5 linked regions of the Homo sapiens genome follow. The protein of the gene in region 1 purifies or fractionates together with the protein of each later gene. This does not show direct contact. Each region holds a gene or a part of one and is shown in the gene's direction. Other genes may lie near its edges.

Region 1 (4,291 bases):
AGGCCTGCTGGGTCAGCCTTCCAGGCTCGCTGAAGGTTCCTGCGTGGGGCAGCCCTCACTGAGGTCCTCCCCGTGGCTCCAGAGAGGAGCTAGTCCTAGGGCACTCGAGTAGAGAGGTGCGCCCTCCTCCCTCTTCTAAATGGTTCCCCAGCTGGCCCCACCTGGCCCCTTTCCCCAACTAACTCATCAGTGCCTGGCAGGAAGACACAGCAGCCCTCCCCCGGTGACTGGAGTCCTGGCCCCAGGGCAGGCCCCGCTCCAAGAACCTGATCCTTTGGCTGGGGCAGGGCCGTAGAGGTGGGCGCAGAGCTTCGGGGAGCTGGCTGTGGGGTCCGCGCATGCAGCCCGCAGGCAAACCATTGCCAGGCCCACGCCTGCACTAAGCCCAGCGCCAGCGCCAGGTCAGCCAAGAACCCGGGGTCGTGGAGGAGGAAGGAAGTCGTGGGCCCGGGATGCGCGGCCGGACCATTGCAGGAGAGCGGGGCAGGCGGACGGCGCAGCAGCTTGCGGGCAGCGAGTCGTCTGCATGCGGCGGCGAAGCGCCCGGGCCCCCGTCCGCGCCGGTGCCCGCAGCGCGCAGCAACTTGGCCGCCGGGTCCCGGCCGCCCCGGTAGAGGCTGGGTACAGCGAGGGGGCCGGGCGCCCGGGCAGGACGGGCGCGGCGGGTGGGGCCTGGCCGTCTCCCCCTGCCCTCGGGGCCGAACACGCACAGCGAGAGTCTAGCGTCGGCGTGGCTGCGGCCAGCCGGGTCCCCCTGGAGGCCTCCGGACGATCGGAAGTGACTGAGCGTCCGGGTCCGTGAGGCCGGGGGTCGGCCCGCCCTAAGACTCCCACCTGGTCCCGGTTCTCCGTCCGCTAGGCTGGCCGCGGGGCCCCTGGGGCCCGACCTTCCCGGGGTGCCCCAACCTGCGGCAAGGCCGAGGTCCCGCTGAGGCATGAGTCCCGGGTCGGGGACCGCTCTGGGCCGACCCCCGGAGGACGGACTAGGCCGATCCCCAGAGGGAAGGGGGCCAGGCCGAGGCCATGGCAGCGCGTTCCCTGATCCCGTGTTCTCGGCTCCTCGCGTCCCACTATCGGCTGTCCCTTTCGTGCGGGACTGACGGCTCACAGAACAGTTACATTTCAATATCATTCGACTGAAAACCATCCTGTGGACGCCGTGCGAGCATTGTCCCCATTTCACAGCTTGGGAGCTGCGACCAGAGAACGTGGGCGCGCCTCGCAAGGCCGTGACCGCGGCGGGACTCGAACCCTCCCTCCTGAGTGCGCGCCGATGTTCCTTAGGACCCGGGAGCGCCGGGGGGGGGGGGGGGGGCGGGGGCCCCGCGCGCTACCCCCTGGGAAGTGTAGTCCGAAGTTGCGGGCCGGGGCCAAGCAGGAGGCGCGTGGGACTACACTTCCCGGCATGCCACGCGGCCGCCGGCGCCCTCGGCCCGTCCGCCCCGCCCCGCCCCGCGGCCCCAGCCCGCCCCGTCCGTTGAGGGCCCGCGCCGCATGGAGGCCGGCTGAGGAGCGCCGCTGCCTCGCCTCGGTACGCCGCGCGGCGCGGACGGCGCGTGCGTGAGGACGGGGCCCAGCACCGAGCGGGGGGCGGGCCCGGGTCAGGGCCGCGGGGTGACTGTGGGGGGCGGGGGGAGCGAGCCCGAGTCGGGGGGTGGGGGCCGGGGGCGGGGGGGGTCAGGCCCGGGTCAGGTTTTGGGGCCGGGGTAGCAGGTCGTGGGGGTCAGGCCCGGATCAGGTTCAGGTTTTGGGGCCGGGGGAGCAGGTCGTGGGGGTCAGGCCAGGGTCAGATTCAGGGTTTGGGGCTGGTAGACCAGGGTCGTTGGGGGCCGGGCCCGGGTCAGGTTTGGGGGCCGGGGTGGCAGGTCGTTGGGGGGGCCAGGCCCGGGTCAGGTTTTGGAGCCGGGGGAGCAGGTCGTGGGGGTCAGGCCCGGGTCAGGTTTGGGGCGGGAGCAGGCCCCGCGCGTCCCCTGCCACCGCTGCCGGGAGCGGCGCTGCCGAGGAGCGGAGCCCCCCAGGGCTGGGGCGGGGAGGGTCAGCGGCGGCCTCGCGGGAAGGCGCGGGTCGGACCTCGAGTCCCAGGGTCCTCGCGGGTCGGGAGGGCCCCAGCCACCCCCGCCTGCCGCCTGCGGTGGAGCCGGCCGAGGTGAGAGTGGAGGAAGGCGGCCCAGGCCTGCGGGTCTCTGGGGGTGCTGGGGGAGGCCGAGCGGGAGGCCCCGGACCCCCGTTGTCCCCTCCGGCCCCGCTGAAACCTGGGGCTTCGCTCTTCTGTAGGTGCCTTTGCCCTTCAATTGGAGCAGAGCGGGGTTCCCATATGGGCGAAGTGGACGCCAGATCGTCCCCCGCTGTGCGCAGCCCAAACTTAAAAGGTCTTTTTAACTGAGCTATCATGAAGCTGCCGTGTGTCTTTGTCAAAACTCTTACAAGAAAGATGGAGTGGGAGCTGTCTGGGCACTAGCGTCCCAGAAACAACCAGGAACTTGTGGAGGTGCTAAGCTCCCTGCGGGGACTCCCGCAGCCTCGGTAGCCTCCAGATGGAAGCCTCCTAGCTTTCAGGTCCCTGAAGAGGCCGTGCAGGCCGCCAGGCTCACTGCGCTGTGTGTCTCTGCTCCCCGCTTGCTGCCGCCGCCCTTGCAGTGTGACTGGTGGGGATGCTGGCCAGCCTCGCCGGAGGCCCTGATGCTGTGGGGTCCGAGGAGGGGGCCTGGCAGGGTGGGTGGGTGGCAGGAGCCTGTGGGGCCCCCTGCATGGTGGTCAGTGTGGGGGCTCTGCATTGACTGTGACCAGGTCCTGGGAGGTTGGGGGCTGCCAGGTGTGCTGGCAAGGAGGCCTCGGGCTCTGGCTCAGGTGTGTTTCCCGTCTCCCAGCTCTGCCACACCTGCGTGAAGCGGTCCCGCCAAAGCCGGGAGGGGTTTCCTGTGGCCAAAGGTGCCAGGCATCAGAAACAGGAAGCAGGGGAGGTCAAAGCTCTGGGCCACACCCTGGTCCCTCCAAGTTTGTCATTTCTGCAACCCCCAGGTCTGACCAGTTTGGAACCTGGGCTTTCTGAGCCGGTCTAGTGGGTTGGTTGAGAGATGGGGGTTTTTCTGGTAACTGCATTTGGTGCTAGCCAGTTTTTGGTCTGCACTAGGAAGCTAGGCTGCAGTCTGGGAGGCAGTTTCTAGTGGGGTGAAGGGGATAAGATGGGTGTCTTAGCTCTAGCTGCTGTAACAAAGCATCACAGACCAGGAAACTTTAAAAAACAGCAGGCTGGGCTGGGTGTGGTGGTTCACGCCTGTAATCCCAGCACTTTGGGAGGCCGAGGCGGGCAGATCACGAGGTCAGGAGATGGAGACCTTCCTGGCTAACACGGTGAAACCCCGTCTCTACTAAAAAATACAAAAAATTAGCTGGGTGTAGTGGCAGGCGCCTGTAGTCCCAGCTACTCGGGAGGCTGAGGCAGGAGAATGGCGTGAACCCGGGAGGCAGAGCTTGCAGTGAGCCGAGATCATGCCACTGCACTCCAGCGTGGGCAACAGAGTGTGACTCTGTCTCAAAAACAAAAATGAGGTCTTGGCCTGGCGCAGTGGCTCACACCTGTAACCCCAGCACTTTGGGAGGCCGAGGCAGGTGGATCACAAGGTCAGGAGTTCAACACCAGCCTGGCCAAGATGGTGAAACCCCATCTCTACTAAAAATACAAAAATTAGCTGGGGGTGGTGGCGCACGCCTGTAATCCCAGCTACTCGGGAGGCTGAGGCAGGAGAATCGCTTGGACCTCAGGGTGGGGGAGGTTGCAGTGAGCCAAGATCACGCCACCGCACTCCAGCCTGGGCGACAGAGTGACACTCCGTCTCAAATAAAAAAAAAATGAGGTCTCGCTAAGTTGCCCAGACTGGTCTTAAACTCCAGACCTCAGACAATTCTCCTACCTCAGCCTCTCCTGAGTAGCTGGGGCTGTGAGCGAGTAGGCTCCTCCCACCATGCCTCACTGGTGCTGGGAAAAAACTTAACAGAAATTTATTTTCTCAGAGTTCTAGGGGCCGGACATCCCAGATCAAAGGTGCTGGTCCCTGGTTGCCATGCAGCCTCCTGGCTTGTAGACGGGCCCCCGCGGCGTCCTTACCCGGGGGAGCAAGAGCTGCGTGGCGTCTCTTCCAGGAGTACTAACCCCGTCATGGGGGCTATGCACTCATGACCTCATCCGAACCTGATCACCTCCTGGAGGCCCTGCCTTCTAATACCTTCATAGTGGGAGTTAGGGCTCTAACCTGTGGGTTTTGGGGGACACAGTTCAGTCTGTAGCAGTGGG
Region 2 (3,951 bases), on another chromosome or scaffold:
GTGGGCTAATGCTCTGTAACTAGAAGTTTGGAAAGCCGATAAGGTATAACAGAGGCCAGATTGTCATCCATCTGGCCAGTGACAGGTGATCAGCGCAGTGCTAGGGGCACTCGGGTGATGGCATGATTGCTGTGGTCAGCTCAGAGTCCTGAGGGGAAGCAAGCGGGCTCTCACCATCTCAGGGCAGTACCACTGCTGTGCGGCTGTCAGTCAGTGCTGCAGGCGCCGAGAGGAGGGGCTTGTGACCGCCCCAGGGAAGCTGGGCATCACCAAAGGGAGCTTGTTTGCCAGGGACACTGCAAGTAGGAAGTGTCTACAGGTCGATGACAGGCCTAATCTCTATGACAGGGTCTAGACTTTCCTCAGGGTCCAGGGGCGCACCTCAGGGTGAACTGGAAAACTCGACCGCACTTTAGTGCCAGGTGGGCAGGGATCCCCATGTCAGGGTGGGAGTGGGGCGGCTGATTGGGGCTGGAAATGTAGGTGGGGAGGCGGCAGCCAGGGAGCAGGGCATCCTGCGAGAAGAGCATCCCGCTAAGGAGTCTGAACGCCATCCTGTAGGCGGGGGAGTCATCAAGGCAGGGCAGAGGCAGGACCAGATGGCCGTTTGAGGTGCTGAGCAAAGCTCCCGGTTTGCGCGGAGAGGTGAGATCGAGGCCCCTTGGGAGGCCGAGGCTTAACCAGGGCTCAAGCAGAGGGGAGGGAAGGCTGGATTTCAGAGGTAGGGAGGATAAGGACCGTGGGTGCACGACGGGGAGGGAGAGCCAAGTCAAGGTTAATGCCGGTGCTCGGGCGGATGGTGAAAGCAGCAGATGGCCTTGACCGGGGTAGAGAACTCGAGCACAGGAGCAGGTTCTGTGTGTGTGTGTGTGTGTGTGTGTGTGTAGGAGCTTTTGGGGTCACGGGAAGTACTGAGAGGTGAGGAGTGGGATTTGGGACGTGCGTAGTTGAACTCATAGGACGTCCAGGTGGAGAAGGAATCACTTCCTGTCTCTGGATCCGTCTCGATCTCTGCCTGGCGAGGGCGCGCCCCGGCTGGGCGTGGACACTGTTCTCCGGCCGCGTCGGGCCGGGCGGGTGGGGCGTTCCTGCGGGTTGGGCGGCTGGGCCCTCCGGGGTGTGGCCACCCCGCGCTCCGCCCTGCGCCCCTCCTCCGCCGCCGGCTCCCGGGTGTGGTGGTCGCACCAGCTCTCTGCTCTCCCAGCGCAGCGCCGCCGCCCGGCCCCTCCAGCTTCCCGGTAAGGCGGTGGGGGCGCATCCCCTGGCGACTCCTCCCGTTCCCTCTTCCGCTTGCGCTGCCGCAGGTGGGCCCGGTCTGTGGGCGCCCCCCGATTTCCCGCAGGTCCCGCGCGGCGTCGGAGCGGGAGATTCCCTTGCAGCTTGCGCCCCGCGGGCCTTCGGGCTCCGCAGAGGGACGCCGGCCCTGCGCGGGGCGGAAGCGGCCGGGAAGCCACGTGTCCCCGCGGCCGCGCGTGGTGGGGGAGGAGGGACCGGCGGCGCCCACGTGGCCTCCGCGGGCCCCGCCAGAGCCTGCGCCCGGGCCCTGACCGCACCTCTCGCCCCGCAGGACCATGGCCAACCTGGAGCGCACCTTCATCGCCATCAAGCCGGACGGCGTGCAGCGCGGCCTGGTGGGCGAGATCATCAAGCGCTTCGAGCAGAAGGGATTCCGCCTCGTGGCCATGAAGTTCCTCCGGGTAACTCGCCCCCGTCTCCCCTTCCCCGCTGCAGCCGGCTCGCGGGTGTTTTTCCCTCCCGGCGGCGGTTTGTCCGCGTCTGCTTTCCGAGTTCATTTCGCTGCCGCGAAATCCCTTTGCCCTCTGCCCCCGCCCACGGCGGCTTGGGCCCGCCGACCCTTTCCCGGGGTGGTGGGGACAGACGCCCTTGGGAAGGTGAAGCGCTGGTAGCGTGACTCGCCCTCCGGGTTTGGGTTCCTTCCCGCGGGCCGCTACCTGCCCACCCGCCGCAGGGGGGCAGCAGGGAGCGGAAAAACCCCGGGCCCCAGACCCCCTGCGCCTGCCCACTCGGGTCCACCTAGGCACAGAATGGAGGCTTGGAATCTCCTTTGCTTTAGTCTGAAACTCCGAGTTCCAGTGCGGTGCTCCTCCTTTAGCATAGGGTAGTGAGTGTATTTTCCACATTAAATTTGGGGCACAGATCTGAATCCCTACACTTACGGGTAAGAATCTAAGTACTGAAATTCAACCAGGCTCATCGGTGAAGAGAATGTTCTCAGTTATTATCTGAAATATTTAAAAGGGCATTGTGAGTAGCCCAGGGGAGTTTAACATGACCTCTGCCAGGCAGATGACCTGACATATGTACTTCAGTTGCAGCCAAAATTTAATTCCCTAAATCTAGATCCTCAAACCACCTACTTTTTAGGCTTACAAAACCCCTAATGTCATTGACGGTATGAGGGTGTCTTTACGATTAGAACAGTCTTGGCCAGGCGCGGGGCTCACGCCTATAATCCCAGCAATTTGGGAGGCCGAGGTGGGTGGAGCCCAGGAGTTGGAGATCAGCCTGAGCCACATAGCAAGCCCCTGTCTCTACAAATAAATAAATAAATAAATAAAAATTAATTGGGCATGGTTGAGTGCATCTGTAGTTCCAGCTACTTGGGAGGCTGAGGTAGGAAAATCACTTGAGCCCTGGAAGTTGAGGCTGCAGTGAGCCATCATTGTGCCACTGCATTCCAGCCTGGGTGATGATAGTGAGACCCTGTCTCCTAAAACAAACCAAAACAACACACCAAAAAAAGAACAGTCTTTCTGTTAAAATGGCATTAGTTTCATGGTTTGGATGGGATTTAAAAAATATTTATGTGTGTGTATATGTGTGTATATATATATATATTTCCACACACCACTTAGGAACGTGGGCTAGAATATAAAACCGGACTTGCTAATGGGAGGTTCAGAGGATGGGTTGGAGTCTTTCCAGCTTAGCTCCTAACTGGTGCCTCCTCTCCAATGCCAGGCCTCTGAAGAACACCTGAAGCAGCACTACATTGACCTGAAAGACCGACCATTCTTCCCTGGGCTGGTGAAGTACATGAACTCAGGGCCGGTTGTGGCCATGGTGAGTGCTCGTGGGGAATGAGAGAAAATGAGGAAAAAGTGCTCAGTGTTCTTTGTTAGACATCTCCCTCAGCTAATCTAAATTTTATTTTATGAATGGAACCTGCTGAAGTTACTTAACTGAGCAACTAGGAGCTTGGGAGGAGAAAGCAAATCAGACCTTAGAAATGGGAAGGATGTTAGCTGGGTGTGGTGGTGCACGGCTGTAATCTCAGCTACTTGGGAGGCTGAGGTAGGAGAATTGCTTGAACCTGGGAGGCGGAGGTTGCAGTGAGCCGAGATCGTGCCACTGCACTCCAGCCTGGGCAACAGAGCGAGACTCTGTCTCGACAAAGAAAAAAGATATGGGAAGGACTTTTTCAGGTACATGTCTCTATGGTTAAATAGAATCTCACTGCCTGCAAGAGTGGTAAATTTTCGGGCCAGGCTTGGTGGCTCATGCCTGTAATCCCAGCGCTTTGGAAGGCTGAGGCGGGTGGATCACCTGAGGCCAGGAGTTAATCCCAGTTACTCAGGGGGCTGAAGCACGAGAATCGCTTGAACTTGGGAGGCGGAGGTTGCAGTGAGCCGAGATCATGCCACTGCACTCCAGCCTGGGCGACAGCAAGACTCCATCTCAAAAAAAAATAATACTCAATTTCTTCTGTTTGACAAGTGTTTTAGACCTTAATGTTTCCTAGATTAAAAAACTTTATCCTATTTTCTCATGAAAAATTCAAAGGTAAGGATGTAAGAAGTTCTCAATCCTATACTAGAAGCAGTTTCTTCTGGATGGTGCTAATGTCCATTTGGGAGTGGAGAGAATATGAGGAGAGAGTGGCTGGGCGAGGTGGCTCACACCTGTAATCCCAGCACTTTGGGAGGCCGA
Region 3 (4,024 bases), on another chromosome or scaffold:
CACAATTTGATAATTTTTAAAATTTTGTTGTAGCGATAAGATCTCCCTGTGTTGCCCAGGCTAGTCTCAAACTCCTGGACTTAAGCAATCCTCCCTTCTCAGGCTCCCAAAGTGCTAACATTACAGGTGTGGGCTAGTATGTCACCCACTGTGTGGGCCAGTATTCTTTGTTTTGCAATCTACTTTGTCTGATATTCACTTAGCCATTCCAACTTCTTAAAATTTAGTTTTGTCAGTGTATGTCTTTTCCCATCTTTTTGCTCTTAAACTATCTCTGCTTTTATATTTGAATAGCTTTCTGGTATTTACCATATAGTTTGGTTTTGCTTTTTTATCCATTCTAACAATCACTGCCTTTTACTTGTGAGCATTTACATCATTTATATTTATGTAATTATTGATATGATTGGGTTTAAATCAATTTTGCTATTGGTTTTTCATTTGTTCCATCTGTCTATTGGTCTTTTTTTTTCTTTTGTATTTGGAGACAGATTTGCCCTCTGTCACCCAGGGTGGAGTGCAGTAGAGCTATCACAGCTCACTGCCGCTGGGCACTGGTCCATTTTTCTATCTTTTTTTTTTTCTTTTGAGACAGGGCCTCCCTATGTTGCCCAGGCTGGGTTCAAACTCCTGGGCTCAAGTGATCCTCCTGCCTTGATCTCTCAAAGTGTTGGCATTACAGGCGTTAAGTCACCAGAGCCAGTCAGTTTTTTTTCACTTAGGTACAGAATTCAATGCCAACAGTTCTTTTCTTTCAACACTTTAACCATGTCACTCCATGGGGACGCTGTCTTGAGCCTTTGGTAAGCCTCATTCTCCAGGACCACACGGCAGGCGCGACAGCCCTAGGTCCACCCCACCCCGTAAGCGCTCCCTCCGGGAGGAGACAGAAACCCAGGACAGCTCCGGGGCAAGGCCGAGGAAGGAGGGACGACGGGGCAGGGAGGCCCGAAGAGTCCCCGCCTTTTGGGATAGTCGCCACCCTTGGACCCCCTCACCCTTGGGGACGTTGAGGAGTGTTAAAATCTCCAAGACGCGAGTCACCGGTACGAAGCCACAGCCATTTCGCTGCTTGCTCGGTGCAAGTGCAGAAGGTCCTAGTAGCCGAGCGTGGAGTCGAGCTCGTGGGCGGCGTCGGGCACCTTCGGCCGCGCCCTCAGCTGCACCCGCCGGTGGGCGGGGCCCGAGCCCGTCTCTAAAGCCACGAGGCCGCCCGCTCCGAGCCTGGTGCTTCCGACCGCTGCGCGCGGCTCCTGGGCTGTCACAGTCTCCCGTTGCCGCCGTCATGTCCCGGCAGCTGTCGCGGGCCCGGCCAGCCACGGTGCTGGGCGCCATGGAGATGGGGCGCCGCATGGACGCGCCCACCAGCGCCGCAGTCACGCGCGCCTTCCTGGAGCGCGGCCACACCGAGATAGACACGGCCTTCGTGTACAGCGAGGGCCAGTCCGAGACCATCCTTGGCGGCCTGGGGCTCCGGCTGGGCGGCAGCGACTGCAGAGGTAACAGTGGCCCCTGATCCTCCCCCTGCACGGTGCAGAGCTGAGCCTGTCCACAGCCGTGTACCGCCCCGCTCTCCCTGGCCCCGGGGCAGCACCCAAAGTTTTGTCCCCCCCACCGCCCCCACCCCTGTTCACCTCGCAGCCTTGGGAACACCAGGCTCCTTAGGCACGTCTAGCTCCGGACAACTTTTCTCTCGTCTTCTCTTCTGTTCGTCTCTCTTCTCTTCCGGGAGGTAGCCAGCACCCTCACTGACGCCTGGATGACTTGGTCTTGCCTGGAATGACTTGGCTAGCCCCTCTCTGGAGCACAAAAAACACTGGGATCTGGCATTGTGCAGCTCCTGTCCCCACCTGTGCCCTCCAGGTGCCCTTGACGGGCCTGATCTGCAGAAATTCTGTTCTTACCGCCTGGCACTCCCTGGCACAGTCCAAAATCAGAGTTTGGACCCAGCACACTATCTGCTTCCTCCTTTGCACATGCCAGCCTGCTCGGGGCCCCGGACTTTGCTCTGAGTACCTTGTGGTACTCACAAGGGCACCTCACAAGGGTGGCAGTGCCCGGAAGCCTTGGCAGCTCCCTCAGGGGGATGAGGGATTGGGGTGGTACAGAGTCTCACTGCCCTCTCTGTGGGAGGCTCTGTCGGAGGCTATTGGAGAGAAATGGACACTAACCCACTCCAGGAAGCTCCAGTTCTAGAGATGGCTGGGGAGCCCAGAGTGACCCCTTCCTGGGAGGGACCCCGTGAAGAAAGAATGGATAGGAGTTTGCCAGGAAGAGTACAAGGGGCAAGGGCGTCAGGGCAGTGGGCATGGGTGTGGAAAGGCAAATGTGTTTTGGCAATGCCGCGGGTGCTGGAGGAGGCAGGTGTGGCCGGAGGGGAGGATGTGTGTATAGGGGCAGGAGGAGCCGCCCTCAGTCTGATGCCATTTGCAGTGCTTAGGCCGATGCCTGGCAGGCACATAGTGAGGGCTGGGAAATGTTAGCTGTTTGTTTGTTCTTAGTATTAGCACCATTTGCCTCCTTCCACTGAGTGTCTGAGTGGAGTCTTATTTCTCCTCTGATTCACCACATGGTAGATCCAGAACGAACCTGGCCTGTGCGTGCATCCCAGTGCCACGCTCTTTCTAGATCACCCGGCTGCCACTCAGTGAGAGCTCTAACCATATTTCTGATTTTTTTTTTTTTTTTGAGACAGGGTCTTGCTTTTTTGCCCAGGCTGGAGTGGAGTGGTGCGATAGGGCTCATTGCAGCTTTGACCTCTCAGGGCTCAAGCCATCCTCCCACCTCAGTCTCCTGAGTAGCTGGGACTACTACAGTAGCACCACACCCGGCTAATTTTTTGTATTATTCATTGAAACTGGAGTCTCACTTTGTTGCCCAGGCTGGTCTTAAACCCCTGAGCTCAAGTGATCCTCCTGCTCTGGCCTCCCAAAGTGCTGAGATTACAGGTGTGAGCCACCACAGATCTGTACCCTCTGCCTGGCCCTTATTTCTGATTTTTTTTTCTTTCCTTTTTTAATCCTTCTTTGTCTTCTGTCTGAGTCCAAGGTTGGCTGGCGAAAGTCCTCAGATCTGATCTGAAGTTAAATTCAATTGAGAAGCAGAGGGGTGGTGGTGGAATGGAAAAATTCCATATGAATAGTTCCTCAAACCTGCTCTTTGCTAGGCCTCAAGGGCTCCAGTGACTGCCCTCCTGCCAGCCTAGGTGACTTTCTAAGTGTGAAAAGTGGGAAGAGGACTCTCCACTCACCTGTTAGTCCAGTTCACTAGGAACTAAGATTCTTTTTTTTTGTTGTTTGTTTTGTTTGTTTGTTTGTTTTTTGAGAAGTCTCACTCTGTGAGACATTGTGCTGTGGCACAATCTCGGCTCACTGCAACCTCCGCCTCCCGGGTTCAAGCAATTCTCCTGCCTCAGACTCCGGACTAGCTGGGGACTACAGGCGGGCTCCACTATGCCCAGCTAATTTTTGTGTTTTTATTAGAGATGGGGTTTCACCATGTTGGTCCAGCTGGTCTTGAACTCCTGACCTTCTGATTTGCCTGCCTCAGTCTCCCAAAGTGCTGGGATTACAGGCATGAGCCACGGCGCCTGGCCCTGAATTTCATTTCTCTTTCCTCTCAGTGAAAATTGATACCAAGGCCATTCCACTGTTTGGGAACTCCCTGAAGCCTGACAGTCTCCGGTTCCAGCTGGAGACGTCACTGAAGCGGCTGCAGTGTCCCCGAGTGGACCTCTTCTACCTGCATATGCCAGACCACAGCACCCCGGTGGAAGAGACACTGCGTGCCTGCCACCAGCTGCACCAGGAGGTGAGGGGACCCCTGAGCTCTGGGAGGTGGTCCACTGCTGCTCTCCTTATCCTGATCCTAATGGTGAGAGCAGAGGCACCAGGGCTGTTCCAGGGTGGAGCAGGGAACAGCCCAACTCCCAGGGGCCCCACCCTGGCCTCCCTTTCCTGGTCTGGGCTGCACTATGTTCTGACTGGAGCCTCACCTGAGCAGGGCAAGTTCGTGGAGCTTGGCC
Region 4 (3,293 bases), on another chromosome or scaffold:
CAGCCTCCGGAGTAGCTGGGACTACAGGTGCCTGCCACCACGCCCAGCAAATTTTTGTGTTTTTAGTAGAGATGGAGTTTCACCATGTTGGTCAGGCTGGTCTCGAACTCCTGATCTCAGGTGATCCACCCGCCTTGGCCTCCCAAAGTGCTGGGATTTACAAGCGTGAGCTGGCAGGGCGTGGTGGCTCAAGCCTGTAATCCCAGCACTTTGGGAGGCCAAGGCGGGCGGATCACGAGGTCAGGAGATCGAGACCATCCTGGCTAACACCGTGAAACCCCGTCTCTATTAAAAATACAAAAAAATTAGCTAGGCGTGGTGGTGGGCGCCTGTAGTCCCAGCTACTCAGGAGGCTGAGGCAGGAGAATGGCGTGAACCCGGGAGGCAGAGCTTGCAGTGAGCCGAGATCACACCACTGCACTCCAGCCTGGACGACAGAGCAAGACTCCGTCTCACAAAAAAAAAAAAAAAAAATACCAGTGTGAGTCACTGTACCTGGTCCGAATTTTTTTTTTTTTTTAATATTCGGAGTTTTCTTAATTATCAAACAGATATTTTTGGGACTGTTTGCATGAAGAGTATTAGATTTGCCACTACCAAATAAACATGTAAGTATATCAACAGTTAATTATGACTTTTATGAAAAGTGAGAGATTAATAAGAAGCAGTTTTGGTCGGGCGTGGTGGTGGCTCACATCTCTAATCCCAGCAGTTTGGGAGGCTGAGGCTGGTGGATCACCTGAGGTCAGGAGTTCGAGACCAGCCTTGCCAACATGGTGAAACCCCATCTCTACTAAAAATATAAAAATTAACTGGTCATGGTGGTGCACGCCTGTAGTCCCAGCTACCTGGGAGTCTGAGGCATGAGAATCGCTTGAACCCAGGATGCGGAGGTGGCAGTGAGCTGATCACGTCACTGTACTCCAGCCTGGGTGACAGAGCTAGACTCTTATCTCAAAAAAAAAAAAAAAAAAAAAAAAAGAAGAAACAGTTTTATTTAAGTAGTTGTTTCCAGGTCCTTTAATTACTTGAGAAAAGCAGAGAAACCTAAAAAGTAGTCTTAGAAGTCACTGACCATAAAATTTTTTTAGAAATAAAGATATGAGGATCAGGTTTAGGTGCAGTAGATGTTTTGACTGTGTTTATAAAACACGAACAGTTTACTCAAAATTAAATTTTGTTCACATTGATAAACTTTCCTTGAGAATGTATTTTTCTGCCAAGAAATTCTGTTAAGCTGATTTAATTCCTGGAGTAGTTTTCTGTATAAAGTTGTTAAAACTTTCTGTTTTCATTTTATGTTACTCAAATTATTTTCAACACTATCATTTTTTATTTCCAATTTTACATCAAAGATTTGATTCATCCTTTGCTGTTTTGTCCATGGCATATTTCTCTGATAGCTTTTGCTGCTGTGATTTTGTTCACAAAGTGCGTGAGTGTGTGTGTGTGTGGGTGTGGGTGTGTCCTCCCTGGAGAGTAACCTGTGTCCATTTATTGACAAGAGGATTGAATGACCTCTATTATCATTCATCAGTTCAGTTCAAGACTAGAATGTCAGTACTTGCCAAGGGCCTGTCTCTCTTCTCTTTCGTATACACGGTGTTAGAACTTTCATTCGGTTCTGAACAAATCTGTTAGAGGAGTGTAGGCTTTCTCCACCTCAGCACTGTTGGCATTGAGAGCAGGTAATTCCTTGACATGGGGAGCGTCCTGTGTATTGTAGGATGTTGAACACCATCCTGGGCCTCCACCCACTAGATACCAGTAGCATCCACTCCCAGTGTGACGACCAAATTTGTTTTCAGACATTGCCCTATGTCTGCTGCTAGCACAAAGGCCCTGAGTGAGACCCTGAAGCAGAGCAGCATCAGCAGGACTCCCTTCCCTGGTCCCCTGAGCACCCCCATCATAGGTCAAGATACCATCCCAAGGTACTGGTGTTTCTGACCTGTTTTCTTGTTGAACTTTGTTCCATACTACCCCTCAAGCCCCAGTTTTCTCATAGAGTACTAACCACGTATGCGTCTGTCTGTTCCAACTGATTTATTCCTATAATGATTTTGTGGTGTTTTTTTTTTTTTTTTTGAGACAGAGTTTTGCTCTGTTGCCCAGGCTGGAGTGCAGTGCCGCGATCTCGGCTCACTGCAAGCTCCGCCTCCCCGGTTCACACCATTTTCCTGCCTCTGCCTCCTGAGTAGCTGGGACTACAGGCTCCCGCCACCACGCCTGGCTAATTTTTTGTATTTTTAGTAGAGATGGGGTTTCACCCTGTTAGCCAGGATGGTCTCGATCTCCTGACCTCATGATCCACCCGCCTCGGCCTCCCAAAGTGTTGGGATTACAGGCATGAGCCAGCGTGCCCAGCCGATTTTGTGGTTCTTAACCAGTGAACATTTTGTTCATATCACGTTAAGTAAAGACAGAATTGTATTTACATGCAGGACAGTCCAGCCTCATTACAGAAAGTCGGGTAGGTGGGTGGTGGTCATGTTTCTGTTCCATGTAGAATCTAGGGTAAGATCTTAGGCAAAAGTAGGTATTCAGTACAGTAGTACCTGGAGGCTTTTTCCTTTGTTGTATTTAATGTGATTGGTGGGTATTTGTTGTGACTGGTGGGTATTTGTTGTGATTGATTGGTGGGTATTTGTTGTGATTGATCGGTGGGTATTTATTGTGATTGGTGGGTATTTGTTGGGATCGATTGGTGGGTATTTATTGTGATTGATTGGTGGGTATTGTGATTGGTGGGTATTTATTGTGATTGATTGGTGGGTAATGTGATTGGTGGGTATTTGTTGTGATTGATTGGTGGGTATTGTGATTGATTGGTGGGTGTTTGTGATTGGTAGGTATTTGTTGTGATTGATTGGTGGGTATTTGTTGTGATTGGTGGGTATTTGTTGTGACTGGTGGGTATTTGTTGTGATTGATTGGTGGGTATTTGTTGTGATTGGTGGGTATTTGTTGTGATTGGTGGGTATTTGTTGTGATTGGTGGGTATTTGTTGTGATTGATTGGTGGGTATTTGTTGTGATTGCTTGGTGGGTATTTGTTGTGATTGGTGGGTATTTGTTGTGATTGGTGGGTATTTGTTGTGATTGATTGGTGGGTATTTGTTGTGATTGCTTGGTGGGTATTTGTTGTGATTGGTGGGTATTTGTTTGATTGGTGGGTATTGTGATTGGTGGGTATTTGTTTGATTGGTGTGTATTGTGATTGGTGGGTATTTGTTATGATTGATTGGTGGGTATTTGTTGTGATTGGTGGGTATTTGTTGTGATTGGTGGGTA
Region 5 (2,838 bases), on another chromosome or scaffold:
GAGGACAGGCTGGTGAGTGAACTCTACATCTAAAAGGGTTAGGATAAGTAACAATTAAAAAGAAACTGGCCGGGCGCAGTGGCTCATGCCTATAATCCCAGCACTTTGGGAGGCCAAGGCGAGTGGATCATTTGAGGTCAAGAGTTTGAGACCAGCCTGGCCAAAATGGTGAAACCCCGTCTCTACTAAAAATACAAAAACATTAGTTGGACATGGTAGCATATGCCTATAATCCCAGCTACTCAGAAGGCTGAGGTAGGAGAATCACTTGAATCCGGGAGATGGAGGACGCAGTGAGCCAAGATCGTTCCACTGCACTCCAGCCTGGGTGACAGATCCAGACTTCATCTACAAAAAAAAAAGAAAAAAGAAAAGAAAAGAAACTGGGCAATGTTGAAATGTATCTGATTAACAAGAATAAAAATGAGTTTGATGAGGAGAAACTAAGTAGTAGGCCCAAAACAGATTTGTTAACCTATCTGGGGAGGAGAAAAAAGCCAGAACTTTATAAATTGTCCTCAGTAAGTTTGCTAAGACACTGAGGAGGGGCATCAAGGGACTTTTGAATGAGATGGGTACAAATCTATGCAAGCATAGGGTAGGGGGGAATCCCTGAGCTTAAGTCTTTGGGCTGGGTGGAGGTGGTGAAGGGGAGAACTTTAAGTAGAGAATCTATGAAGATGTTGGATGGAAAAACTGATAACTCTGTGTTTCCCAAATCCTACTGAGGGTAGAACAGGTTGGATAAGGACATAACAGAAGCAATAGAGACTACCATTAGTCTTGAAACAGCACGTGCAGACCATCCGAAGCCTGTAACTGTGAAACCAGTAACAACGGAACCTGTGAGTTGATTGGGGATTGGGGGCTGGGGGGAGACAGGACATCCCTAGTGACGTGGAATACATAGAGGGCTGGAATACCAGGCTTTGGTGGATGGGAGAACCAAATAATTAGTACTTCATTGCAGGTATTCATCTCAACTTGGCCATGTTTCACTAAGATTTAATACTAACCCTGTTTACAGAACACTGGGAAGATATGGTACAGTTAAATTTCAGTTCAGTAGTATTCAATAGGTATGTAATCTATGCCTAAGGCTGCTAAGGTAACTGATGCTGATAAAAAAGAAATCTATGTTACTGTCCTCAAGGATTTATAAAATTCAAGTTTACGAAACACTTAGAACAAAATGAAAAGGTATGTTATGATGTTAAATTATATATAAATTTGAAAGCAGAAGATACTGGCAGTGCTTTAGCCAATGTAAGAAGAGAGATTAGTACAGGCTAGAGTTGTCTGAAAAGCTTTCAAGAGGCATTTGTGCTTGAGATACACCCTGAAGAATAGATGAGCTTTTGATTGGTGGGTAGTTATGGAAGGACAGAAGCAATTAGGAGGAAGAATAGTTATTCCAAGAGTGAAAGAGGCCAGGTATGGCGGCTTATGCCTGTAATCCCAGCACTTTGGGGAGGCCAAGGTGGTCGGATCACTTGAGGTCAGCAGTTCAAGGCTAGTTCAATGGCCAACATGGTGGAAACCCCATCTCTACTAAAAATACAAAAGTTAGCCAGGCGTGGTGGTGCGTGCCTGTAATCCCAGCTACTTGGGAAGCTGAGGCATGAGAATCACTTGAACCCGGGAGGCAGAGGTTGCAGTGAGCCGAGATCACGCCACTCTACTCCAGCCTGGGCGACAGAGTGAGACTCTATACTAAAAAAAAAAAAAAAAAAAAAAAAAGAGTGAAAGAGCTGCACAGGAGGGGGGAATAGAACAAGCATAATATGTTTAGCAAATAGGGTATGATTGAAGGAGAGGGTATATGGAAGGGAACAGTGGGAATTAAGAAAAATATAAAATTTACAAGGCTCCTAATACTTGCTTAGTAATTTCACATGTGGCAACATAGGGGCAAATTTCAGAGAGTCTCAGGTGTCAGGCTGAAGTCTGGACTCATAATCAACAAGGAGCCTAGTAAGTTCTTCATTATGGTAAAAACACGATGAAAAGTGATATTTTAGAAAAACCGGCCAGGTGTGGTGGCTCACGACTGTAATCTCAGCACTTTGGGAGGCTGAAGTGAGCTGATCACCTGAAGTCGGGAGTTCGAGACCAGCCTGACCAACATGGAGAAACCCTGTCTATAGTAAAAATACAGAATTAGCTGGGTGTGGTGGCACATGCCTGTAATCCCAGCTACCTGGGAGGCTGAGGCAGGAGAATCGCTTGAACCTGGGAGGCGGAGGTTGCAGTGAGCCGAAATCGCGCTATTGCACTCCAGCCTGGGAAACAAGAGTGAAACTCCATCTCAAAAAAAGAAAAAGAAAAACCACTCTTCAGGTTGTATGCAGGATGTAAATAATTTAGTGGAAAGCAACTCATGAGATTTGCGTTGTTCCAGAAACAATCTGTACTCTGGCATTATGAATGGAGAGGAGAAAAATAAATATTATGAAGAAAATACCTTGCTTGAGTGATAATTTTATATGAAGTATAAATGAGGAGTGAGTTAAAATAACTCATGGGTTTTAAACATGGATGTCTGGGAAAATGGTTGACCAAAGTGGGAACTATGGGAGGCCAGAGTGGTTTAGGACAGAAGTTATTAATTTGGTAATGGCCAAGCTGAGTTTATGGTGACAGCCCTATGAGGGTGTCCTAAAGGTCACTGAACTAGATCAGGGCTAGAGTTCTAAGTGCAAAGTCACAGATATGAAAGTAAATGAGCTCAACAGAGCCAGTACACACAAGCTCAGAAGGCCAGTGACTGTGCCTGTAGTGAGTGGGAGGAAGAGAAATTAATGAATGGAATGGAGAAGGATTTGACTGGAGAAGTAG

Evidence for each region.
Region 2: the proteins of TRABD (region 1) and NME2 purify together in Homo sapiens (affinity purification with mass spectrometry, with the first as the bait; 3 studies listed by BioGRID). This does not show direct contact.
Region 3: the proteins of TRABD (region 1) and AKR7A3 purify together in Homo sapiens (affinity purification with mass spectrometry; one large-scale study listed by BioGRID and IntAct). This does not show direct contact.
Region 4: the proteins of TRABD (region 1) and HSDL1 purify together in Homo sapiens (affinity purification with mass spectrometry; 2 studies listed by BioGRID and IntAct, with this or other methods). This does not show direct contact.
Region 5: the proteins of TRABD (region 1) and C1orf54 purify together in Homo sapiens (co-immunoprecipitation; one large-scale study listed by IntAct). This does not show direct contact.

Annotation. Positions count from the first base shown.
Region 1 is NC_000022.11:50,184,446-50,188,736, forward strand, and holds the start of TRABD (traB domain-containing protein), read left to right. Parts: upstream 1-1,467; 5' UTR 1,468-1,531; exon of another isoform or gene 1,532-1,600; intron 1,601-4,291.
Region 2 is NC_000017.11:51,165,260-51,169,210, forward strand, and holds the start of NME2 (nucleoside diphosphate kinase B), read left to right. Parts: upstream 1-1,151; 5' UTR 1,152-1,238; intron 1,239-1,241; exon of another isoform or gene 1,242-1,304; intron 1,305-1,462; exon of another isoform or gene 1,463-1,567; coding exon of another isoform or gene 1,568-1,571; coding exon 1,572-1,697; intron 1,698-2,982; coding exon 2,983-3,084; intron 3,085-3,951. Other genes in the region: NME1-NME2 protein, read left to right, coding at 1,568-1,697, 2,983-3,084. UniProt on the Homo sapiens protein: Major role in the synthesis of nucleoside triphosphates other than ATP. The ATP gamma phosphate is transferred to the NDP beta phosphate via a ping-pong mechanism, using a phosphorylated active-site intermediate.
Region 3 is NC_000001.11:19,285,971-19,289,994, reverse strand, and holds the start of AKR7A3 (aldo-keto reductase family 7 member A3), read left to right. Parts: upstream 1-1,224; 5' UTR 1,225-1,285; coding exon 1,286-1,499; intron 1,500-1,634; exon of another isoform or gene 1,635-1,935; intron 1,936-3,622; coding exon 3,623-3,810; intron 3,811-4,002; coding exon 4,003-4,024. UniProt on the Homo sapiens protein: Catalyzes the NADPH-dependent reduction of various carbonyl-containing compounds, including aldehydes, ketones, and toxic products from cellular metabolism or environmental exposure.
Region 4 is NC_000016.10:84,124,898-84,128,190, reverse strand, and holds part of HSDL1 (inactive hydroxysteroid dehydrogenase-like protein 1), read left to right. Parts: intron 1-3,293.
Region 5 is NC_000001.11:150,275,788-150,278,625, forward strand, and holds part of C1orf54 (uncharacterized protein C1orf54 isoform b precursor), read left to right. Parts: coding exon 1-12; intron 13-734; coding exon 735-845; intron 846-2,838.